Linked DNA regions of Homo sapiens. The protein of the gene in region 1 purifies or fractionates together with the protein of each later gene. This does not show direct contact. Each region holds a gene or a part of one and is shown on either strand. Other genes may lie near its edges. The genes, in order: ABHD14A, NDC1, TRABD and TMEM59.

The links.
Region 2: the proteins of ABHD14A (region 1) and NDC1 purify together in Homo sapiens (co-immunoprecipitation; 2 studies listed by BioGRID and IntAct, with this or other methods). This does not show direct contact.
Region 3: the proteins of ABHD14A (region 1) and TRABD purify together in Homo sapiens (co-immunoprecipitation; 2 studies listed by BioGRID and IntAct, with this or other methods). This does not show direct contact.
Region 4: the proteins of ABHD14A (region 1) and TMEM59 purify together in Homo sapiens (co-immunoprecipitation; 2 studies listed by BioGRID and IntAct, with this or other methods). This does not show direct contact.

Annotation. Positions count from the first base shown.
Region 1 is NC_000003.12:51,970,704-51,978,074, reverse strand, and holds the start of ABHD14A (protein ABHD14A), read right to left. Parts: upstream 3,012-7,371; 5' UTR 2,940-3,011; coding exon 2,871-2,939; intron 205-2,870; coding exon 1-204. Other genes in the region: ABHD14A-ACY1 readthrough (NMD candidate), read right to left, coding at 1-128; putative protein-lysine deacylase ABHD14B, read left to right, coding at 6,405-6,615. UniProt on the Homo sapiens protein: Possible role in granule neuron development.
Region 2 is NC_000001.11:53,765,297-53,772,340, forward strand, and holds the end of NDC1 (nucleoporin NDC1), read right to left. Parts: coding exon 7,033-7,044; intron 5,858-7,032; exon of another isoform or gene 5,722-5,857; intron 2,738-5,721; coding exon 2,674-2,737; 3' UTR 182-2,673; downstream 1-181. UniProt on the Homo sapiens protein: Component of the nuclear pore complex (NPC), which plays a key role in de novo assembly and insertion of NPC in the nuclear envelope.
Region 3 is NC_000022.11:50,195,869-50,200,095, forward strand, and holds the end of TRABD (traB domain-containing protein), read left to right. Parts: intron 1-1,372; coding exon 1,373-1,483; intron 1,484-1,568; coding exon of another isoform or gene 1,569-1,580; coding exon 1,581-1,720; intron 1,721-1,954; coding exon 1,955-2,127; intron 2,128-2,206; coding exon 2,207-2,318; intron 2,319-2,476; coding exon 2,477-2,651; 3' UTR 2,652-3,247; coding exon of another isoform or gene 3,248-3,260; 3' UTR 3,261-3,727; downstream 3,728-4,227.
Region 4 is NC_000001.11:54,029,205-54,036,204, forward strand, and holds part of TMEM59 (transmembrane protein 59 isoform 2 precursor), read right to left. Parts: intron 3,102-7,000; coding exon 2,946-3,101; 3' UTR 1-2,945.

The DNA.
Region 1 (7,371 bases):
CTGGTTGAGTGGGAGCACCTCGCGGTAAAAGATGGGCGAGTTGCCAGGGGTGAGACCAGCCAGGACTGTGACATTGGGGTCTCCCCAGAGGCAGGAAGTCTGCTCAGGGGGGCCTGGCAGCCCCACATACAGTAGGAGCATGAGCAGCAGACTCAGGCCCAGCAGGGCTACCTGGGACCGGCTCATGGAGGTCTGTACCACAGTCTGGAGAGGGAGAGGAGAGGGAAAAGAGGCTGGAACTGAGTCCCTACAAGGACCCTGGATCCCATCCCAAAACCCCACCCAGAGTCCCCAGCAGAGGAAGAGCTCCAGCCCTTGCCCTTTCCCTTGCTCTGGGCAAAGTTCTGGGAGTTCACACTCAACTACTCCACATGCCAGGGCAAGCGCTCAGATACCTCACAGTGTGAGGAGGTGCATCTGAGGTGTTCTCTGGCACACAGCATGCTCAGTGACCGCCACCATCATGGCATCAGCTGAAACCACTTCCGTTCATCAAGCGCTTATGACAGCAGGCCCTGAGTGTGGCACTTCACATACAAGGTTCTTTTCCACCAAGAATGCTGGGGAGCAGACGTGATTATAGGTCTCTTATAGGTGAGGAAATGGAGGCTCAGAGAGGTACATTCTCTTGCCCAAAGTGCCAAGTAGCAAGTGGGGGAATTGGGGTTTGAACCTAGGAATGGGCTTCTAACTACCAGGCCACACTCGGTTTGCCAAGGAGGAACCCGTGGAGCTGGGAGATGATGGATGAACTGGAGCCTTGCAGGTGGAAAAAGTGATGAGGGCTATCAAAGGAGAAAGACTGCGCGCAAAGGGACCTCCCACTTAAGGGCATGTTTGGAAATGGTTCTTTTAATCTCACTGCATTTAATACTGCTAAAATCAGAACGCGTTTTACAATCGCATTATAACTAAGGTCTAACCCAGCTGTTATGAAGAGGCTCACAGAGAATGTCTTGTAATAGAGGAAAATGCTGAGGAGTGAGGGGCTGCAGGGCCAGGGAGGAGCATGGTACACCCAGAAATGAAAAGCACAGTGTAGAGGTTGGAGAGATGAATGCCGCCTGCTACTCCCCATCCTACACACAGACAGCTTCTGGCCAAATGACTGCTTCGTGGACTCCTCCAATCTGGGGTCTCTGCCACCCCAGAGGACAGCCCTTAGGACCCAGGACTCAAACAGGACAGGCCTTTGAGACTGCCACTTCCTGACCTTGTGTCTTCAGTTTGTCAGTAAAATGGGATAACCTCGTGGCTGCCCTCCTAAGCTTCCTGTGAGATTTAGATAATACCGTGGACTGGATCAGGGCTGTCCCTGTCATTTCTTGGGCCTAGGATGAGCACGCCTGCTTCCTTCCAGGAGTCCAGCAAACACATCTTTATTTTATTTTTATTTTTCTGAGACGGAGTCTTGCTCTGTCGCCCAGGCTAGAGTGCAGTGGTACAATCTCGGCTCACTGCAACCTCCGCCTCCCGGGTTCAAGCAATTCTCCTGCCTCAGCCTCCCGAATAGTGGGATTACAGGCTCCCGCCACCGCGCCCGGCTAATTTTTGTATTTTTTAGTAGAGACAGGGTTTCACCATGTTGGCCAGGCTGTTCTCGAACTGCTGGCCTCGTGTTTCACCCGCCTCGGCCTCCCAGAGTGCTGGGATTACAGGCGTGAGCCACCGCGCCGGGCCAGCACATCTTTATTGAGTGCCAACTGGGCGCCTGCCCGAACTAGGAGCCGGGGGCCCGTCTTGGTTCCTATTCATCCCTCCGGGATGTTTTGGGGATGTTTCCTGAGCCCGCATCCCCAGGCTTCGGGGTCGGGGGGCTTGTGAGCCACAGCAGCAGCCGCCTTTCTGCTGTTTCTGGAAAACCAGGACCTAGTGGAGGAAGAGCGCGTTCCTCTTTTCTTCCAGACCACTAACAACCTCAGACGCGCGTCTCTAACTGGGCGTTAGTCCAGATTCCCACCGGGCGCGAGGGACATTTCCTTGCTGCCCACTCGGGGCGCCCCCGCGCTTCTCCAAAGCGGGAAGGGCGGGGCTTAGGCTGTTGCCTTGGCAACCGAGGGTGCCCGCAGTACTAGGAAATTGTAGTGGACCTGCAGCTGGCCGCCTGCGGGGGTTTGCGGGGGGCAGGGTAAACTGTGCCCGGGTTAGGTCATTGGAATATGCGTTGACAATGACACACAGGTGCACACACGCACAAATACGAGTCTTGCCCCCACACGCTTTTCTTTTGCACAAGCTATTCCCTGCATGTACATGCAGCCTCTTTGCACACACACTGGCCCGTGTGCAATTAATCCCTTGTAATGGTACCCTCTACATCACGCACACAGTCAGGCATCAGGAAGCCAGAGAGACTGATGGAGATGCACACTTTGAAAACCACAGGCTGATCCTCAGAAATACTCAAGCACGGTCATACACACAACCGTAAGACTACACATTCACACAAGAAAGGCACATGCACAGGAAAGCAGACACGCACACACACACAAACCCCCAGAAATGCACACACGCAGACAGGTAGACACATACCCTTAAAATCACACGCACACAGAAATACACTCGGAAGACATAACGCTGACACAAGCAGGCAGACATCAACGAACACACCCCCCCCCCAAAAATATAAGCGCGCAGAAACCCACTGACGGACACCATGCAGACACACAAGCGTACACATACACCCAGACCCCCAAGAACATATGCAGACCCTGCGCGCGCACACACATTACACGCGCGCACATGCACATTCGCGGCCCCAGCGTCTGCTTCTTCCGCGGGACTCTGCCCCGGGGCGCCGGGGCAAGGGGCGGGGTAAAGACGGCCCTCCCCTGGGCCACCGGCCGGCCTCCCTCCCCCGGGAGACTCACCGGGCCCAACGGGATGAGCGGGCGGGCCCCGCCCAGGCGGAACCAGCAGCCGCACAGCGCCCCGACCATGGCTGCCTCCGCAGCTCCGCGGGCCGCTCCGGCTCTAGGCGGCCAGGAGCGCGGCCATCTCGGCGCGCCTGCGCACTCCGCAGCCGCGGGCCTGCAACCCAGTTACCGAGTCGTCTGCGTGGAGGGGGTGCTGGGGGCAGAGCCCCAGCGCTCTCTGGCCCGCTCCCCGCCCAGATTTTCGGAACTGTTTTTGGCTTGAGAGCCGGCGGAGAGCCATGTGGCTTCTTCTCAGTGGAACATCTCCACCCTGGCTCAGTTCTCTGGCCTGTATAATGGAGTTAAGGATAAAACCCACCGCACAGGGTTGTCCTAGGTTCTTAAGGACGGGTCAAGCCTCAGAACAGTGTCCGGAGCAGAGGCCTCGTTGTGTAAATGCCAGATATTGTTATGCAGCAGCTCCAGGTCTTGGCCGACCCACTTTCCTGACTCCTACCCACTCCTCCCCACCCCCTCCCCGACGCACACCCACGGTCAGAGCCTGGGCTGGCCCTGGGCTCGTTCACGTCTACTCATGGCGCCTGCCCTGGTTGGCGATGTGTTACCAACGTCTGGCCTGTCCCAGCCCAAGGCTCCGCGTGGCGACCAGGCCCAGCACTGGGAGGCTGTGCAGAGCGTGGCGTTTACTGCTTATTGCTACTCTGCAGAGGTTGGCAACATCTGACCCGCTCTACTGGCAGGAAACAGGCTCGGGGGCATTGGGAAAACGATCAAGGCCACTTGGCTGGACACTGGCGGAGCCTCGCACTCAAACCTGTCGGGCCTCAACTCCGTGCCAGGCCAACAAGTTGCCCTGGGCAGTTCAAGCTGGGGATAAGGGGGATGGGGAGCAGGAAGACAGCAGCAAGGATGCGATCCCGAAGGAACTTTCCTCCTCAGACTGCTCCATGTCCATGTGGGGCAGGTCGCTGAAGAGTTCGAAACCGTGCTCAGCACCGCGTTTGGGGCATGTGAGACCGAGAGGCTTTGGGAAACTGACGCCGCTGTGAGAACGAGTTTAGCGGAGTCTATGGACGCTGCGAGCTTGTGGCCACAAGAGGGCGCCCCGGAGCACGGCCCAGTCCCCGCCCCCGCTGGATGGGGCCCGGCCTCTTCCCAGCGTTCCTCCTCCGGCCCCAGGTCACCGCCAGCACGCGCCTGCTTCCCGTCTGCGCGAGTCCACGCAGCTCCCCAGGTACCCGCCCTGCACTCCTGACCCTTTCTTCTCTCCAGTCAAAATCCAACCCCACCTACCCCAAGTCTTCCTTTCTCGGATCCCTGGGTCCCCTCCTTGGGAGTTGCCACCATTCCCTCCCGGTGCTCCCTTCCAGAGCTAGCGAGCCAGAACCGTAGTCCGCGGAAGCAACCTGACCGCGAGGTCAACGCGTTGGGCCCCAGGTGGCAGCGCGTTGAGCACCCCGCATCCCCGGCGGGTCGCCTTTCCCACTGGGCGCTTCGGTTTCCGCCTCTAGAAAATGGGCTTTCCGGTGTGGAAGCGCGCCTGTGGTTCCAGCTACTGGGGGTGAGCCGGGAGGATCACTTGAGCCCAGGAAGGTCAAGGCTGCAGTGATCCATGATTGCGCCACTGCACTCCAGCCTGGACGACAGAGCGAGACATCTTCTCTTAAAAAAAAAAAAAAGAAAAAAAAAAAAACCGAAGAAAATGGGCTTTTAGTTCCGGCGCGGTGGCTCACGCCTGTAATCCCAGCACTTTGGGAGGCCAAGGTGGGTGGATCACTTGAGGTCAGGAGTTCCGGACCAGCTCGGCCAACATGATGAAACCCCGTTTCTACTAAAAATATAAAAATTAGGCCGTGCACGGTGGCTCACGCCTGTAATCCCAGCACTTTGGGAGGCTGAGGCGGGCGGATCACGAGGTCAGGAGATCGAGACCACCCTGGCTAACACGGCGAAACCCCGTCTGTACTAAAAAAAAAAAAACAAAAAATTAGCCGGGCGTGGTGGCGCGTGCCTGTAGTCCCAGCTACCCGGGAGGCTGAGGCAGGAGAATGGCGTGAACCCGGGAGGCGGAGCTTGCAGTGAGCGGAGATGTGCCATTGCACTCCAGCCTGGGCGACAGAGCGAGACTCCGTCTCAAAAAAAAAAAAAAAAAAATTAGCCAGGCATGGTGACGCACGCCTGTAAACCCAGCTACTCGGGAGGCTGAGGCAGGAGAATCGCTTGAACCCAGGAGGTGGAGGTTGCAGTGAGCCGAGATCATGCCACTGCACTCCATTCTGGGCAACAAGAGTGAAACTCTGTCCCAAAATAAATAAATAGAATAAAATAAAATAAAATGGGCTTTTTACCCCAATTTGGGCTCCCTCTGGCCTGCATTGACAACTCATGACCTGTAACTTACCGTTGATTGAGCACTGAGCCCTTACTACGTGCTAGGCATGGTACATGCATGGCCTTATTTAATCCTATCAACCACCTATGAGCTAGTACTATTGAATTATCCCCATTTATAGAAAAGGATAATAACGATGAGAATAAGAACAGTAATTGTAATGGAGCCCCACCACATATTGAGGTTTTACAGCAGGCACCCCCACTGATAATTTTTCTGTTTTTTGTTTTTTTGAGATGGAGTTTTTCTCTTGTTGCCCAGTCTGGAGTGCAATGGCGCGTTCTCGGCTCACTGCAACCTCTGCCTCCTGGGTGCAAGCAATTCTACTGCCTTAGCTTCCCAAGTAGTTGGGATTACAGGCGTGTGCCACCACAGCTGGCTAATTTTGTATTTTGAGTAGAGATGGGGTTTCTTTCTGCATGTTCATCAGGGAGATCTCGAACTCCTGACCTCAGGTGATCCGCCCGCCTCGGCCTCCCAAAATGCTGGGATTACAGGCGTGTGCCACCGCGCCTGGCCTAATGAGAGTTACATGTGACCATCAGCTGGCTCTTTTTTTTTTTTTTTTTTGTGACCGAGTCTCACTCTGTCACCCAGGCTGGAGCACAGTGGCACGATCTCGGCTCACTGCAACCTCTGCCTCCCGGGTTCAAGCGATTCTCCTGCTGAGTAGCTGGGACTACAGGCACGTGCCACCACACCTGGCTAATTTTTTTTTCTTTTTAGTAGAGACGGGGTTCCACCATGTTGGCCAGGGTGGTCTTGAACTCCTGACCTCAGGTGATCCACCCGCCTCGGCCTCCCAAAGTGCTGGGATTACAGGCGTGAGCCACCATGCCTGGCCGATAATTTTTCTTAAACTTTTAATTAAATTGCTAATTCTTGAAGTTGGCTTTATTGTTCCCATATTTCAGATCAAGAAGCTGAGGCCCCAGGTTACACACTAAAGTAAATGGCAGAGGCAGAAATAACACCTATGTCCTCCTGACCCCAAGGCATGTTCTTAAAGTTCTGGAAACCTCCTGGAGGCTTCCTTGCTGCTCCTCTGGGACTGCCACCCTGGGCAGGGTGTTCTGTGGCCCCTCATCATCGTGGTTTTGAACCACAGGCCCTTCACCAGCACAGCAGCAGCAGGCATGGCAGCAAGCGTGGAGCAGCGCGAGGGCACCATCCAGGTGCAGGGCCAGGCCCTCTTCTTCCGAGAGGCCCTGCCCGGCAGTGGGCAGGCTCGCTTCTCTGTACTGCTGCTGCATGGTATTCGCTTCTCCTCCGAGACCTGGCAGAACCTGGGTACACTGCACAGGCTGGCCCAGGCTGGCTACCGGGCTGTGGCCATTGACCTGCCAGGTACTTAAGGGGCAGGCTTCTGGGCAGGGTTTGGGGAGGTCTCATTAGGGACAGGGCCAGGTTCCTATAACATGTAGCCCCTCCCCACTCCAGGGGTGGGGGCGGTGGGATCTGGAGGACCCAGCCAGGCTGGGCCCTGAACTTGACAGCGTTTGGTCAAGCACACTGCAAGGGCCTCTGAGCAGTCTTGATCCAGATGTGGTCCTCACCGCCCAGCTGCTCCTCACTGTTACCTGGGCATTGTCTCAGTGTCTCTGAGCCTCTGTTTCCTCATCTGCAATGGGAGATAACCACACTCATGTTTTGGGCTCGCTCTAATGAGAATGGAATGAGATAATCCATGTGAGTATGTGGCTAGTACCTGACACAGAGTAATCGGTGCTCAGCCAATTGGAAGTAAAGTATTTTGACTGAATAATAACCATAGGCTTTTGGAAGCCCTAAGGAGTGAGACCTGAGTCTTCTGGGGGACAAGGCAGGGCCTGGTGGGTGGCCAGGCCCCCACTTGTGATCCCACATGCAAAGCCCTGAGCTGGGTTCTAGGGTAGATGGGATCAGTGCCCAGACTGCCTGTCATAACCCAGATGGCTGGGTCCCAACCCTCGGTGCCAGGTGTGAAAGGAGCAGCATGGCTGGCCCCACCCCCTCAGGCCAGGGATGGTATGGTTTCAGGGCTCAAGGGCGAGCCTCCTGCCCAGGCAGGATTGATTCCAATGGTGGGTTGGCTTGAGCTTCAGGGTGAAGGTCTGGAGCTAA
Region 2 (7,044 bases), on another chromosome or scaffold:
CAAATCAGTCTAGGTTAAGGGCAAAAGCTGACTTCTCAAGAAGTTCAACTCTTTCTGGTTTTATAAGCAACAACTCTGAGACTAAATTGAAATGATTCAGGAAACATCACCACCACCACCCCCCCGCCCAGAAATTAAATAATTGACCTTATAAACACACATATTTCAATTAACTGTTCCATTTTTTTAAATTGCCAATTTATTTTTCTACCCAATCCAGTATCAACGATATACAAAAGGATATAAACAGACTATCATGAATATTTACAGGATGACACACCAAACAATTACCAAGGAACAAATCCTGCAAAGTAACAAATTGTTGCTTATCCATGTCCACTCAACTGTACAAGGTTTATTTCTAGGACAATTTCCCAGTTCTCTGGGAAGGAAGTTCTGTGGATTTATACCTTCCATAAGGGTCAAGCAAACATGCTAAGAGCTGATACCATCATGTTTTTATACTAACAGCCGAGAAAGGCTTTTAAAGAACACTCTCTTTCAGGCCAATGTTACAGCATTAGTGGGCTCATAGACAGGATGTGACTTCATCAAAGGAAATGCTTCTCTCCTCTTGGTCTCCCTAAGGTCCTCCTCCTAGTACACAGGAGGAGTTCCCCATAATAACACCCTGGTTCCAACAGATGGTGTGTAGATTATCAACACACAATGAGAAAAAGAAACTGACCCCCTTACCTACCAAATACAATACAGATCTGGGGAGGCAGTTTCCAGATCTTCAACAGGCAGACACTATGTGGCCTGTATTTAGTACACAGCACATTCTCTTAAGAGAAAACAGGAATGAACATTCTCAGAAACATTCACATTGCTCATCAAATGTAGCTTTACCCAAAGTATATAGGAAATGGCAAAAACCTAACCTAGCTGGACATTTTATACAAGTAAGTCAAAGTTCAAAGGAATCATCCTATCTTTATTCTCAGAAATCCAATGTTGAATATCACAGTTCTTCTTTAATGGAAGCAGAAGATTCAGAGTCCTTGTCTCCCAAAATGCCTCAGCCAGGGTCAGCACAGAGAGTGGAATATAAAAAGCTTAATTGTGTTAATACATGGAAGACAACAGTTCTCAGTCAACCTAGCCACAATTTTCTGTCTTGGCCATCTGTAAGAAATGACTACGTTTGAAATTCAACTTTCACATTCAAAAAAAAGAAATCAATTCAGCTTCAGACACAAAGCAAAACCAAAACAAAAAAACAAATGGCAATAGTCTACATATCTAAACACTTGACAATTGGGGAACTGTCCCACAGTGATATGCTCAAGGCCAGTAGCACCTATTTATAATTTGGCATGTACTGCTTGAAGGGGCAACAGGACCCGGAGCTAAAATATTCAATTATAAAGATATAATACATCGATGAATCAGACAAAAGTAGACATATATGATACCACATTAAAGATTCATATACAGTACTGTGCTGACTTTAAAGAAAATATTTTGGGACACTAGAAGGAAAAGACAATAGGAAAAGAATTACAAAGGAGCATTTCAGTCCAAAGCCAGTCCAGTGAATATCTATGACTAGGATTTCCAATCTTTGATCTCCAAAGAAGCTGATCTAATAAATTCTAACAATACTTCGTTCACATTTGGGACACACAACATACTTCCAAGTACAGTAATCCCTCTGACGTTTTGGTTTCACTTGCTATTTGATGACTAAGTTGTTTCTGGCTATAAAGATCTTCCTATTTTAATTAGCCATTTAACACTACAGAGGCTGCTCCCTTTGAGAGACCAGACAAGTTTCACAGAATTTGATCTAATGAAGATGAATGGTGGGGAAAAAAGGGAACATTTCCTGGGTTTTTTTGCAAACCTTTTTCTCTTGCTTGAAAAACTCTGCAATCACTTAATGTTTTGCTCCAGAAAAAGAAAGCAAAACTAGCTGGGAAAATACCCATACATTAATACTTCGTGTTTACTAGCATGATACAAAATAAATTCATAGATGTCAGTCAATTGTTTCTTAAAGACCAAATGTGAATTTTTAATCTTGTAACTTAAGAACTGAGTTTTTCCACATTCCTTTATATAGAGTTAGCATCTGTAAACTGAGACCCTTTTTTGGGTAATCATACAAATTTAATTTGTCCCTGGAAACAAAAACCCAACCTAACAGATTAACAAAATATGTCCGTTAGACAATATTTTTTGTGAATATTGCTGCACTGTTACCATTTTTATCCTTCAGTAAATGAAACTACACTTAAAAAGTTTATGTATTTTGAGTTTACAAAGAGCTAAACTCTTAATTAAGAAGACTATGAAATCAACCTATACTCATTTCAGAACTGGCTTCCCTCCTTTCAAAAGTAAATTCTAAAAGTTTTTTAGTTATTACTATTAAGTTATATGAGCTAGAGACATTTCGACTGCCATCAATGCTTCTGTAAAATTGAATAAAGATTTTATTATACCACACACACAAAAAGCAATCGGTACAGAAAAGGCAGTTTTCAGTTATTCTGTTGAGAATTTCTTTCCATGATTTCTCCCATTAAAGTATAGTTTTCAAAGCAACCACCACGACAAAGGAAGCATCTAATTAGTCCGTTTTCTTCTGATCCAAGAATGCTGAACATTTACTGTCCCATCTGTAGTTGTATCAGCAGTGTAATGAACACAGTTTATATTACTTAACTATTCTTTGAACTCCAAGAACTGTTGAAGTCTTTTCTGATGTTCTGCAGATGCTTGCACAGCACTAAATGAAACATAAATTCAAAGCATAAGCTTTATTTTACATTAAGCATATTAAGTGAACCACAGAGCACAGAGACAATATTTTTCAAAACAATTAAAAATGAATAGAAATCTTCACTTATTACTATTTCTGAAAAAGCTGGATGAAAACTCTTTTTAATCTAATGAAGAGGAGGGCTTGCATTCAGTAATGGCATGCTTCTATCTTCTAAAAGACCAAACAAATTAAGACTGACAAGTGAAGGCATTGACTTTAACCTGCTCTGCTATGGAACCTGCTGTGCGGAGTTCCAGGCCTTGGAGTAGATTTTCTGGATTTTATTATTTTATTTAAACCAGATTCCAACATTATCTTTGAGTTGTGGAGTATCTGAATTGCCTTTAATACAAAATCCTTTAATCTAAAATGTTTGGTTAAAACACAATAGACTCCATTAATTGTTTTCAAAGGTAACAGCTTGGTGGTTTAGATTTACTTCTCCCTTTGAACATAAGTTATGTTTTGGATGTGAACACTGTGTTCTCTCTCCACCCTCACCATCACGAAAATATATTACACCTTGATAAAATTAGGGCAAATATATACTGAAACTAGTATAATACTTCCTCTTAAACTTTTGGGCAAAAATTGAATATAATGAAAAATTCCGGTTTTCTAGTTCTTGAATAGGTCACCGCTTTTAAAAGTGCCAAAACGGTCTTATTTTAATAATTGTGTTATGAATTGCCCTAAAATGTCTTATAGACATCTTTGCTTTCTTGAACCATGTACCTCCAATTGAACCATTTCAAGTATTTTACTGTACAAAGATGCCCTCTAGGTGCTAGTGAGGCTGTCTTCTCTAACTTAATGGCTCTGGAATTCTCTCCAACACCAAATCTGTGGCTTTCCCATTATATTTCTCTCTGCTAGCAGGTAGTAAAGTGTCCCTTACAATTTACTATTAGTACTCCTGACTCTAGTAGCAATCTCTGCCCCTCAAATAAATTTTGATATGGGCCAGGCATGGTGGTTCACACCTGTAATCCCAACACTGAGAGGCCTGAGGCAGGAGAACTGCTTGAGCTCAGGAGTTTGAGGCTGCAGTGAACTATGCTATGATCTTGTCACTGCACTCCAGCCTGGGCAACAGAGCAAGACCCTGACTCAAAAAAATTTTTTTGATATGTTATAGGCTGGAAAACCAGAATTAAATTAGCCTAAATTAGGAGTAAATGGGAGGTGGCAGGGAATGGGGAGATGTAGGTCAAAGGATAGAAAGTTGCACATATGTAGGATGAACAAGTCTAGAGATCTAATGTATAACATGACGACTATGGCTAACAAAATTGTAATGTACTAGGTATTTTTGTTAAATAAGCAGATTTTAGCTGCCTTTGACATACACACAAGAAAGTAACTATGTGAGATGACAGACATGTTAATTTACTTCACTAAACATTTTACTATTTATATATAAATCCCATAACATATGTTATAAACCTCAAATATACACAATACAATTTATCTTTTAAAAAATAAGTAAATAGTGTTGAATGAATGTCTCCAATGAGTGGGCTGTGTTTGTTAGTTGATTTTCAGAGCTCAAGAGCTAACTTCATTTATACCTAGTTCTCAGAGGTAGAGCTTTGAATAGTGAATAATCAGATATTATACAATAAGTATCATGATAATGTAGACTGCACAGTGGGCTTTACCTACGTATGATCCCATTTTATCTTTACTAACAACAAATGAAACCAAGTGGGTGTGAGAATGTTCCCTTTCATGGGGACAAAAACTGTATCAGAAAGATTCAGAAGTTAGGGGAAACACCACAGTCTAGGTTAGGAGTATAGACACTAGAGATAGAACCCTAGGGTTAGAAAGATTTGCATCTGAATCCTGGTTCTGCAACTCACTACTTGCATAATCTTGGGTGAATTACTTAAAACACTAGGAAACTTGCTCACAATCACAGATAGCTAATGATGCAAGCAGACAGAAATCCAGATATTTTAACTCCAGATCTAACATTCTTTCCACTATACGACACTGTCCTACATTTGTACAAATAGCCTCCACTGATTTTATCAGCTTTGGCACATATATAAAATATGGCTCTTTTCAGAGAAAAGAAACTAAGGTGGAATTTCATTCTCACAATTTTTATTTTATTTATGTATTTATTTATTTTTGAGGCAGGGTCTCGCTAAAATATGGCTCTTTTCAGAGAAAAGAAACTAAGGCGGAATTTCATTCTCACAATTTTTATTTTATTTATTTATGTATTTATTTATTTATTTATCTTTGAGGCAGGGTCTTGCTCGGTCGCCCAGGCTAGAGTGCAGTGGTGCAGTATCGGCTCACTGCAACCTCCACTTCCCGGGTTCAAGTGATTCTCCTGCATCAGCCTCTGGAGTAGCTGGGATTATAGTTGCCTGCCACCATGCCCAGCTAATTTTTGTATTTTTAGTAGAGAAGTGGTTTCAACATGTTGGCCAGGCTGGTCTCAAACTCCTGACCTCAGATGATCCGCCCGCCTTGGCCTCCCAAAGTGCTGGGATTACAGCCATGAGCCTCTGCAACCGGCCCATTCTCATAATCCATTCTCATAATTTTTAATCAGTCATCTATATCTCTTTTTCTTTTTTTTCTTTGAGACCGAGTCTCGCTCTGTTGTCCAGGCTGGAGTACAGAGGCACGATCTCGGCTCACTGCAACCTCCGCCTCCTGGGTGCAAGTGATTCTCATGCCTCAGCCTCCCGAGTAGCTGGGATTTCAGGTGAGCACCACCACGCCCAGTGAATTTTTGTATTTTTGGTAGAGACGGGGTTTCACCATGTTGGCCGGGCTGATCTCAAACTCCTGACCTGAGGTGATCCACCCACCTCGGCCTCCCAAAGTGCTGGGATAACAGGCATAGACCACTGTGCCTGGCCTATATCGCTTTCTTATCTAAATCCCTATGCTCCCCTTTTCTTCTTGCCTTTTTTCCCCCAGGGGAATGTTACAGTCCTGCTATTTATCCAGCCACTGATTAAGCTGGATAAAGCTGGCAGGAACTTCAAATTAATCTCGAATACAATGTCCCCCCTGCCTGGACATGAGCACAGTCAGGCAAGGTCTACGGGTATGCCCTTCTCCTTGCTTTTGTTCTATCATTAATATATGTCATATCTATTTCATTCTCTAAATTCATCAGTATTTTCTGAATGTGTCCTACATACTAATTTATATCTTGGAGGCAGTCTAGTGTTGTAGATAGAAAGATGAAAGATTTTTAAGAGAAAGAAAGACTTGATTTCAGGTTCATGTTTAATACGCACTAGATTGTGCTATCAGGCAAATTTTAACATCTCTATGCCTCAGTTTTCGTATCTGTACAATTATGATAATTTCTACACTTCACAGGGTCTTTGAAAAGAGTAAATGAAAAAACATTAAGTTCTAAGTGTATTGTCTAGAATAGCACTATCTGATAAAACTTTCTGGAAGTAGGGAAAGATGTTATACTTCTGTTGTCCAATACAGTAGCTACTAAACACATGTAGTTATTAAGTACTTCAAATGTGGCTAGGGTGACTGACAAATTGAATTTTTAACTTTATTTAACTTTAATTTAAATTGGAAGTCTTAAACTATTCATTGATTGCATACAAAAACAGCAGAGCAATCTCTCGTGTCTTCTAAAGTTCATTTATAATTGTGATAAATATAAATACAGTTTAGTTACTAAGCTAGTATCCCTCATCCTGCCTAGCTAGATCATTTCACAAGAGGAAAGCAGTAAACATGAATAAAACTAAATATAAACAGGCTTGGCATTTGTGGTTTTCTCTCTGGTTCTGTTTCTCAAGGTGTTGTGATCTGTTGGTGTTTTTCCAGCATGAATCACAAAGCACCAGGGATTCATTTCTGGAATACTTTGCTCACCCCAAGTCTTCAGTTTGCTGACCAAGATATAACAATAGAATTAGTTTTAATATGCTTTTCTGGAAAGGTACTCGGGTTTTCTGCTCTTTTTTCTCCCTTAAGGATCTTTTGATAATTTAAATATATATATATAATTAATCTGCTGCATTTATAACTTTCTGTCTTCTTTTGTCCATTTGAAAGAAATCCCCAAAGCTTTATGATGGGCCAAATTTTAAAATATAAATATTAAGTCCACATCCAAGCTGTAAGTTTACAGTGAGAATCATCAAGGTCCCAAAAGAACACTTTCAACACATGAGCCTTATCATTCCCATACCTATTTCTAAGGAAAGCTCCCCAGAATAGGTATCATCATGGATCAAAACAGGTAAACTTACTTCAGATGTTCA
Region 3 (4,227 bases), on another chromosome or scaffold:
GTCCCTAAACGTTTGGCGCCTGCCTTTCATTTTTTAATTTCTCCAGATGAGGCAAGTCACCAAAGAAGACCTCTGTGGGCCGTCTTCTAAAGGGCAGTCCCCGGTCCAGCCAGGGCCCAGCACTGGGCAGCCTCCCCACCAGAGCCTGGGGCCCAGTGATCTCGAAGGGGCATAGAATTCGGCAGTGCCGTGCTGCTCACTGCTGCGGTGTCACAGAGGGAAGGGGGCGTGGGGCAGGGTCTGGGAGACACCAGGTGTCCGCTTCACCTGTCCCCTCCCGGGGGACACTCGCTGTGCCCTGGTGTCTAGGTTTCTACTGGGGTTGGTCACAGGCACGTCTGAGCTCAGACCCCAGCCCCTCCAGAGGTGGAGTGGGTCCCAGTGGACCAAGGCCTCGTGAATGTCTCATCCTAAGTTAGCCTGGGCTCCCCAGGGTGGCCTGGGCCCCGGGGAAACACGGGCACTCCATCAGGCGGGACATTCCCAGGGCTCATGGCTCAGGCCCAGACCGTCCCTGGGCGCGTGCAGGTGTGAGCGATTGCCCGGCGCTGTGTGGCCCCCGGGGCTTTGCTGCCCTTCTGTGGGCATCATCTCCTTCACACGTGGACACCCCCGTGGTGCCAGCCGGCCGGTGAGACAGGGGCAATAGGCCTCGGGCTGTAGCTGCTGAAGATGGGGGTGGCCTGGTGTCCGCACCAGCAGTGCTGTGCTGACCTCAGCAGGCAGGTGTGAGTGGTGAGGCCCTTTCTCCAGCCTGCCTGCCCAGCACCCAGCGTCTGTGCCAGCTCAAGGCGGCCCCTTCGCAGAACGAGACTGCCTCATAAAGGCCTTTTCTTCTTCTTTTTTTTTTTTTGAGACAGAGCAGTCTCACTCTGTCACCCAGGCTGGTGATCTCGGCTCACTGCAACCTCTGCCTCCGGGGTTCAAGTGATTCTCCTGCCTCAGCCTCCCGAGTAGCTGGGATTACAGGCACCCGCCAGCACACCCGGCTAATTTTTATATTTTTAGTAGAGATGGGGTTTCGCCATGTTGGCCAGGCTGGTCTGAGAGAGAACTCCTGACCTCGTGATCCGCCTGCCTCAGCCTCCCAAAGTGCTGGGATGACAGGCGTGCGCCACTGCACCCGGCCCGTGAAGGTCTTTTCTGAAGGGAGCTACCTTTGAGAAGTGCCTGTTGGGACAGAACTCCCTGCTCTGGTCTGACCCTCTGCACGCTAGGGTGGTCCTGCACCTGTCGGGGAGGGGGCCAAGGACACAGCACTGGGCTGGGGCAGGGCTCTGCGCTGGTGCTGCCTGCCATCCCAGTTCTGCCATTCCCCCAGCGCACCCCCGCACCCGCCCCTCCAGCTGATGCCTGCTCCCTCTCTCTGCAGAACGGGCTCATGTCGGGGCTGATGCAGATGCTGCTGCTGAAGGTGTCTGCACACATCACCGAGCAGCTGGGCATGGCCCCAGGTGGCGAGTTCAGGGAGGCCTTCAAGGAGGTGGGCACAGGGTGAGGTAGGGGGTGGCCACAGGGATGTGGCTCACAGGGGTGGTCCGGGGTTCCCACTGCTCCCCAACACCCAGCCTCTGCTCCAGGCCAGCAAGGTGCCTTTCTGCAAGTTCCACCTGGGTGACCGACCCATCCCCGTCACCTTCAAGAGGGCCATCGCAGCGCTCTCCTTCTGGCAGAAGGTCAGGCTGGCTTGGGGCCTGTGCTTCCTGTCAGACCCCATCAGGTAGGGCTGCCCCCGGGACCCTGGCCGGCCTGCAGGGTGGTCTGTGGGAGGCTCCAGGCCCTCCTGTGCAGGTCCAAGCGCAGCCAATCCTCACTCAAGGCCTTCCCTGCCCTTTCCTTCCGCCACAAATCCCAAACAAACGTGCTGTGGTCCCTGCCCGGTGTCCACAGTGCCAGCCCCACCCCCCCAGCCCGTTGCCCATCCCTGCGGGGCTGCAGCCATCCCTCTCCACAGCAAGGATGACGTGGAACGCTGCAAGCAGAAGGACCTACTGGAGCAGATGATGGCCGAGATGATTGGCGAGTTCCCAGACCTGCACCGCACCATCGTCTCGGAGCGCGACGTCTACCTAACCTACATGCTGCGCCAGGCCGCGCGGCGCCTCGAGCTGCCTCGGGCCTCTGACGGTGACGGCCGCCCGCAGGCGTGGGACCCCCTGTGAGGCTGAGGCCCGAGCAGGTACTGACCCCTTGTCCTTCCCCACAGCCGAGCCCAGGAAGTGCGTCCCCTCCGTGGTCGTGGGCGTCGTGGGCATGGGCCACGTGCCTGGCATCGAGAAGAACTGGAGCACCGACCTCAACATCCAGGAGATCATGACGTGAGTGCCCGCCCCTCCCTGCAAGCCCCACCCCACAAGCCCCCAGGTGGAGGCTGAGCGCCCTGGAGGCCAACCACATGCGGCAGTGACCCAGGCATGGGGGCTGGGGTATGGGGAGCCCACCCCCAGCCAGGCCCAGCGCCCCCTCCCTCCCACAGCGTGCCCCCGCCGTCCGTCTCCGGCAGAGTGTCTCGGTTGGCCGTGAAGGCCGCCTTCTTCGGCCTGCTGGGCTACAGCCTGTACTGGATGGGCCGCCGCACCGCGAGCCTGGTCCTGTCGCTGCCCGCCGCGCAGTACTGCCTGCAGAGGGTGACCGAGGCCCGGCACAAGTAGGAGACTGCTCCCCGCCCGCTCGGGCCCCTGAGGAGCCAGTGCCCCCGCGGCACTTCTGGGTGCCAGGTGCATCCTAGCCCGCCCGAGGCCCCTGCCACCCCCCATGGGGGTCTGGGCCCGGCCTCGCCTGCCCTCCTGGGCCAGTCACCCCTCCCCCAGCCCACCCAAATAAAGGATTATTTAACTGTCTGAGCTCAGGCCTCCCGGCAGCCCCTCCCCTCCCACACTGCAGGGGCCGTTCCCCAGCTTCTGGACAAGACACCCAGCTCCGAGGGGGCAGGGGCTTATAGGAGGGGCCGAGGCGTGCGCTGCCCTCTCAGCCCTGGTGGCAGGCGGGGGACAATGGCCACTGTCCCTACCTCACTGTGCCTTCCTGTGCTCCGGCCACAGGAGCGTCGGCCCAGGGGCGGCTCCTGGGGGCTCCAGGGCAGGCGAGACTGGGAAAGGCCCAGCCCTGGAGCTCCAGCCGACCCCACCGTGCCCCTGGCATCCTGGCCCTGGCCGCCACCTCCCTGGCACCGTCTGCCTGCAGGGATTCTGTGTTTTTGGCTTTTTTAATGTCTTAAAATCTTTTACTCAGGTAATTTTAATTTCAGAGAGAAAAACTGAAGTAAATGTCAAAAAACACCAGCCTTAAATCCAAAGGGAGAGAATTCGTGTTCTTGGGTCTGTCCCGAGTGGGCTCGCGTGCAGCCAAACATCAGCTCTGGGTCCAGGCGTGGCCTCAGCTGGGAGCCTGTGTCCTGAGCCCCCGGAGCGAAGGGGTGCCTGGGGCATCTTGGCCCTCTCTGGGCAGACAATGTGTGCACCTATGTGGAAGGCCAAGGACATGGGCTGTGGCCAGGCCTGTCCCGCTCAGGCCCCCTGCCCGGCGGCCGTCTGTGTGCGGGGCCTCCCTCCTGGCTGTCCAGGACACAGCCCGTGCAGCCCCAGCCTGGACCCAGGCCATCTCTGGTTGTGTCTGTGCCGACTCGGTGTTGAATCAAATCAGGTGTGCGTCAGGAGCCGGCTGTGTCCTTCCTGCCACACTCGGGGATTCATTCCTTAGAAACTGAAATAAATTCTAATTTTGGAAACTCCTGTTTTGTGACGTGTGAACATGGGGTTCAGGTAATGAAGGATCCCTGCCTCTTCCCCCGTGCTCCAGTGCAGCGGGTACTCGTGGCCCTGCCGGGGCCCTGGGGGAAGGAACCTGCCTGGTTTCCAGCAGAAGAGACAGAGTCGGGTCCCTCCATGCTGACCTGTGGGACCCTTCTCACCCACCAGGTGGGACGCAGGTGGCCTGCTGACACTCAAGACCCTCCATACCCAGTCCCACCAGATTCCAGAGTGTGGACCAGACTGAGCCAGACTGGGGCCCCAGGGGGTCGAGGAGACAGATCAGGAGGGCCCAGGGCCTGGGGAATGGGGAGGGGTAACACCTGCCAAGGAGGATGCTGGGAACGGGCGCCCAGAGCGGCCGGGGGGAGGGGGCTGCTGAAGAGGGAACGGTTGCTGTGGGCTGCAGAGGAGGGTTGGGCACGGGGACCTCACCACATTATCCCTCATCCAGTTACCTGCCCAACGCACGCGGAGG
Region 4 (7,000 bases), on another chromosome or scaffold:
GATAAGATTGACCAGATCATCTAGTAATTTCTGATTTACTACAAAACATATCACAAATGAAAGGTGCCCATGAAGTTTTGTGAGAAAACTTGGAACCTAGGCCCAGATCATTCATTATGGTGATTAGTACTGCTTTTGTAATTGCCTGAATTAGCATGTCTCTTAGATGAGGGACCTGAGCCAAGAAAGACCTTAGAAGTCTGGGAGGTTTGAACCAGAGACCCAACGGTCTTGAGAATTTGCCTAGGACCAAGACCAGATTCTCAAGATGCTTTCTGTGTGGTAGGAAATAAGATTATGACTGTTTTATGGAAACAAGGAGCTAAGTAAAGTTAGGCACATCCAAGAAGGGCAAAACTGTTACTTTAGGAGAAGGGGCTTGGAAGCTCAGTTTTGTTGCTTTGGTTGGGATTTTCAAGATCGGAAACATTTTTATGCTGTATATATTTTGGGGATTTTTTTTCAAAAGTAAAATATTTCTTCTCAAAAGTAGATTCTGTGCTTCAGAATTTAATTACCACAAGGAGTCAGAAAATCAACACTACAATCCAGCTTCCCAAACAGAAGACTATATTTCCCATTATCTCAATCTTTATCACTGTACGTACCCTGACCCTAGACTCTAGTGTAGAACAAGTAGTTAAGGGAAGAGAGATTAAAATGGTTACTCATGCTGATGATACTCAAATGCAAACATCAGTCTGGCTTAATTATGCTAAAAAAGAGGAGACAAATATTTGAGTGCCTGCTAAATATCAAGAATGTCTTGGTATTTTCACATATAAGGAATTCTCTCAACAAGAGGGGAGATATTTGTCTAAACTTGGATCAATACTTTCAAGAGAAATGAAGGTATCTCAGGCACTTCTCATTCAGGAAGCGAAGAGAAATGAAACCAAGGGAAGGTGGAGAATATAGGACAACTGTACAGTTGCTTTAAAAAAAAAAAAAAAGATGGGATTCTCATTATATTGCCCAGGATGGTGTTGAACTCCTGGCCCCAAGTGATCTAGATAATTCTTTGTTTTGTTTTTATAAGGGAGGGTCTTTTCTAACAGTGGGCTCTTTGATTCCTGTGAGACAGCAGCATTTTGTGTTTCTCTGTTTGCTTCATTGGATGCATTACAATTAAACCTGTGCCTGACTAAGGAAACTAAGTATGCACTAATGATGGGAGACGAAACAACAGGGCTTTTTATTTTTTTTTAATGGTAACTCCTATCCACTACCCATGTTTTATATAGTCCCCATGTTTGTTTGTATTTTTTTGTACAGAGAGGGTCTTGCTATGTTGCCCAGGTTGGTCTCGAACTCCTGACCTCAAGTGATCCTCCTGCTTTGGCCTCCCAAAGTGCTGGGATTACAGGCGTGAGCCACTGTGCCTGGCTGAGTCCCCACGTTTTATCCCATGTTTTCTAACAAAAAGAAGAAAGAAACAATGACTGCTTGACAATGACGGCTAATTCCTCCTTTCTTCCCCATCTGGATGTGTTCACAACTTTCTATCATCCAAATCTAGACAAACTAAAAATAAAAACCTACACTTTGTGACCAAAGTCTTCCTTGATTAGCTGTTAACTGCTTTTCATTTGGACTCAGGAAGGCTAAAGACTAGGCCATAGGAGGAGTGACTAACTTATTCTTTAGTCAAACAGCACTGATGCAGTTGTCAGCAATGCCCCTGTGACTGAGGAAAGTATTGTTTTACAAAGTTTTTAATATTTTATGGCATAATAACAGTGAATCATATTAGAATTCTGGTGTAGGCTGGGCACAGTCACTCACGCCTGTAATCCCAGCACTTTGGAAGGCCTAAGTGGGTGGATCACCTGAGGTCAGGAGTTCGAGACCAGCCTGGCCAACCTGGTGAAACCCCGTCTCTACTAAAAATACAAAATTATCCAGGTGTGGTGGCGCATGCCTGTAATCCCAGCTACTCGGGAGGCTGAGGCAGGAGAATCGCTTGAACCTCAGAGGTGGAGGTTGTAGTGAGCCAAGATCATACCATTGCACTCCAGCCTCAGCAACAAGAGCAAAATTCCATCTCAAAAGATTCTGGTGTATTATTATTATGACCTGATATCATTCTAATATTAAGCTCTGTATTATTGCAGGTAAAAATAAAACGAGTTTTTGCCAAGTAAAATTTATACTTAATTCTGTATCACAAGAGTCTAATTTTTAGTGTTAAAATGAAGTTTTCTCTGAAAATATGTTTACCTTATACTTGATATGCTATCTAACAGAGAAAAATAGTTCTTTGGAAACACTCATCAAACAAAAACCTATAGCCTGTGCAAAATAACATCAAATGTACTGCTGAGAGATCAGTTTTGCATCAAAATGGTCCCTGACCATCACATTATAAAGCAATAGCAATAAACACAGAACATTTCATAATTCTTATCTAGGTTGGGCAGGAATAGGAGGGAAGGTCTAGAAAAATCAGATACTCAAATTTCAGCACATAATTATTCAAATAAAATTTTAATGATTTCAGTTCCTGAAAATGTAGTGTCATTAAAGGTCATTTCCTGCTAAATTTCAAATTACAGATTTGTGGGCCATTCCTGAGCAGAAGCATCATTTCTACTAAATATTCAGCTTGTTAACTAAGGTAACTGACAGTATCATGGCAGGAGGTGAGAAGGAGCAATGATCAGCTCATAGCTAAGAAAAGGGAAAAAAACAATAACCAAAGCAAAAAACAAAATAGCTACAGATATTAGTAAAATAATAATACAATCCCAAACATCCACCTCTTAAATTACTACAAAAACAATACCAATAAAGTTATAGCAAATACAGTCTTCACAGATTTGAGTAACTTTATTTGCATTTTATAGTGATTTCTTAAGGCCTATATCCAATGAAACCATTTTAAAAGCTCTATGAGGAGTGGAATTTTAGATGTCTATTACACTTGTCTTTTAAAAGAAAAATGCTTAAATTTCAGAATGAGCAAGATTCACTTTTGTAGGTAGAGGCCCTGCTTCTTCATGATCTTCAGTTTTAGATCTAACAACCACAAGAGAAGAAGCTGGATATCTGTTTAGCTTTTGTTCATTCATAAACTCCAAGTCACCATAGATACTCAGCTTCTGCAAAAGAAAACCAATGTACATTAGTAGTCTGGATAATTAGGAACCTCTCCAAGTTAGTCTTTAAATAACAATTTAATTTATAAATAGTTGGTAAAAAAAATTCTATAAACAACTTTAAGAAAGAAGAATACTTTTTCTCAAAGTGTTGTAGATATGTGATTCAGCTCCCAATGGATGGCCAAAGAAAGCTGTTCCACGTCTCAAGTTAAAATCCTCAGGAGTATAACAATTGGGTATCAAGAAAAACAGCTATGGATGCCTTAAGTGATCAAGTCCTTCAACATCTTAGCTCTCCTACCAAGTGGTAAAATAATTTGGTGCAAGTTTTTCTGCTCCTAAATGTTTTAGCTTAACATGTATGGAAAATGATAGATGCTATTTGAAAAGGCTGCGAGAACAAAGAATATGCATGAAATGCTCTCACACTGATAGAAGGGTCTTCATAAATATATAAAGTTCCTTAATTGTTAATACCATATACAAGAAGACACTAAAAGAATGAAAGCATAAAACAGAATCACTGCAAATGTCATAAAACTCATTGGAGAATAATAGTAATATCTAGCATCTTTTGAGAGTAGGTAGACTTAGATATATGTATGAATGTCTCTGTCTCTTTTTTTTTTTTTTTTAAAGAGACGGGGTCTTGTTCTGTTACCCAGGCTGGAGTGCAGTGGTGTGATCATAGCTCACTACTAGGCCTTGAACTCCTGGGCTCAAGTGATTCTCCTGCCTCAGCCTCCTGAGTAGCTAGGACTATAGGCATGCACCACCATGCCCAGCTAATTTTTCTTTTTTCTTTCTTTCTTTTTTTTTTCTTTCTTTTTTTTTTTTAAATGATGGGGTCTTGCTATGTTGCCTAGGCTGGTCTCAGACTCCTGGCCTCAAGTGATCCTCCTACCTTGGCCTCCCAAAGTGTTGGGATACATGTGTGAGCCACTAGGCCTGTCCGTATGTATCTCTTAAAGGCAGAAAAGCAAAGTGAAAAGTCTCCACTAAGAAACGGCATAGGCTGGGTGCGGTGGCTCATGCCTGTAATCCCAGCATTTTGGGAGGCTGAGGCGGGCGGATCACTTCAGGTCAGGAGCTCGAGACCAGCCTGGCTAACATGGTGAAACCCGGTCTCCACTAAAAATACAAAAAATTAGCCAGGCATGGTGGTACATGCCTGTAATTCCAGCTACTCAGGAGGTTGAGGCACAAGAATCACTTGAGCCCGGGAGGCAGAGATTGCAGTGGGGTGAGATCGCGACACTGCCCTCCAGCCTGGGGGACAGAGTGAGACTCTGTCTCACAAAAAAAAAAAAAAAAAAAAATGGTATAGATTCTGTTGTTAATCTACTCATACGGCAACAAATCCCTGTATCCAAAAGTTAGAAACTGAAGTGCTGATATCACTGGCAGGACAACTGACTAGATTATAAAGCAAGAACTCCACAGAAGTACCCGATACTGGAAAGGTGTTTTTAAAAGATGCTGAATAAAGAGCACCTTCAAGAGTTTATCAAAAGTGATACATGCTATCCTGGCTGGGCGTGGTGGCTCAAGCCTGTAATCCCAGCACTTTGGGAGGCTGAGGAAGGTGGATCACCTGAGGTCAGGCGTTCCAGACCAGTCTGGCCAACATGGTGAAACCCCATCTCTACTAAAAATACAAAAATTAGCTGGGTGTGGTGGTGCATGCCTGTAGTCCCAGCTACTAGGGAGGCCGAGGTAGGAGAATCGCTTGAACCCGAGAGGCAGAGGTTTGCAGTGAGCCGAGATCGCACCACTGCACTCTAGCCTGGGCGATAGAGCAAGACTCCATCTCAAAAAAAAAAAAAAAAAAAAAAGTGATAAAGTGATACATGCTATAACATGATGAACCTTGAAAATATGCTTAGTCAAAGAGGCCAGTCACAAGAGACTACATATTGGCTATCTAGGGCTGGAGGGTGAGATGGGGGTAGGGGTGGTGCAGCTGCTGCTGCTTGGGAGAAAATGGGGAGCAATTACTAAGAGTATAGATTTTCTTTCTGGGCTGATGAAAATGTTCTAAAAGTGATTGTCACGATAGTTGCTTACTCACACATGTTTCAGATGTGTTCTACTGGACGGTTGCCTCAGGGGAACAACTATCCTGCAAGGAGGTGCCCCAGTACCTTAAGCTTTTCCAGTATGAGAGTAGCTTTAAGACAAGTTCAGGCCAGGCGCAGTGGCTCACACCTGTAATCCCAGCACTTTGGGAGGCTAAGGCAGGCGAATCACTTGAGGTCAGGAGTTCGAGACCAACCTGGCCAACATGGTGAAACCCCATCTCTACTAAAAATACAAAAATAAGCTGGGTGTGGTGGTGTGCGCTTGTAGTCCCAGCCACTCGGCAGGCTGAGACACAAGAATCGCTTGAACCCGGGAGGTGGAGATTGCAGTGAGCTGAGATCGTGCCATTGCACTCCAGCCTCAGCGACAGTGCGAGACCCTGTCTAAAAAAAGAAAAAAGAAAGTTCAGTGGTTGATGGGTTGGACGTGGATCTGATGGATCTGATATAGCAGGCCTCCATAAAACTCAGAATTCACATGTGACCGTTGGCTCTGGGGCACTGTGAAAGAAAAATGTTCACAACTCTACCTAACAATATTTAAAGATCTTGAAGCAGCAACCAGGAACTGTTTGATTTTATACATCAACATGAAAGAAGCCACTGAAGGGAGGTAGGAGACTGAGGAGATGTTGGTTAAAGGACACAACATTTCAGTTAGATGGGAAGAATATGAAGATACATGAAAATACTTTGTAAATTTTAACGACTATATAAATGTTAGTTATCAACATTATCCTGTCCCAGTTTCCAGGTACCTACATCAATTATATCACCTTAATAAAAATATTAAGTGTAATATTATCTTAATCATTTTTCATGTGCAAATCATATATTTAAACATCTTTATAGTCTATTAGGATAAGACAGTTGTTCAGGCACCATGTTAGGCACATGCCAATGGCTTATTATTAGATTCTAATTTCTGTCTTTTCTCTTTTTCTATGGTACTTTGGAGGCATAAGAAAACTAAAGTTTATTTCAGTTGGATTAGATGTTGACAGCCATTATTATTCTATATTTAGTTATATAAATACTTTTCTGTTCTTGAAAGCTAAGTTGAATAATTAAATTATAGCCTTTCCCCCAAACAAAAATCCTTTACCTTAACAGTTATATTTTTTGGGCCAGTTAAATTTTAATTACCAAGGAAGTCACAATGTCTCCCATCTCTTTTGGGGTTAGATACCAGAATATAACAACTCAAAATCAAACACTCCAGCATTTTTTTTTCTTTTCTTTTGAGACTCAGGGTCTTGTTCTGTCACCAGGCTGGAGTACAGTGGCACAATCCTGGCTCACTGCAGCCTCAACCTCCTGGGCTCAAGTGATCCTCCCACCTCAGCCTCCTAAGTAGCTGGGATCACGGGCACGCACCACCATACCCAGATAATTTTTATAATTTTTCATAGAGACAGGATCTCATCATGTTGCCCAGGCTGGTCTCAAATTCTTGAGCTCAAGTGATCCTCCTGCCTAGGCTTCCCAAAGTGCTGGGATTAGAGAGGCATGAGCACCACACCTGGCCCAGCCTTGCTGCTTCTAAAGCAGCACTGATCCTTAATATTGTGGTAATTAATTTAAACTATTAAGTGGTTCTACAAGTCTTCTCTCTGGCTGGGTATGGTGGCTCACGCCTGTAATCCCAACACTTTGGGAGGCAGAGGTGGGCAGGTCACTTGAGATCAGGAGTTCAGGACCAGACTGGTCAATATGGTGAAACTCCATTTCTACTGAATATACAAAAATTAGCTGGACATGGTGGCGCATGCTTGTAGTCCCAGCTACTCGGGAGGCTGAGGAAGAATCACTTGAACC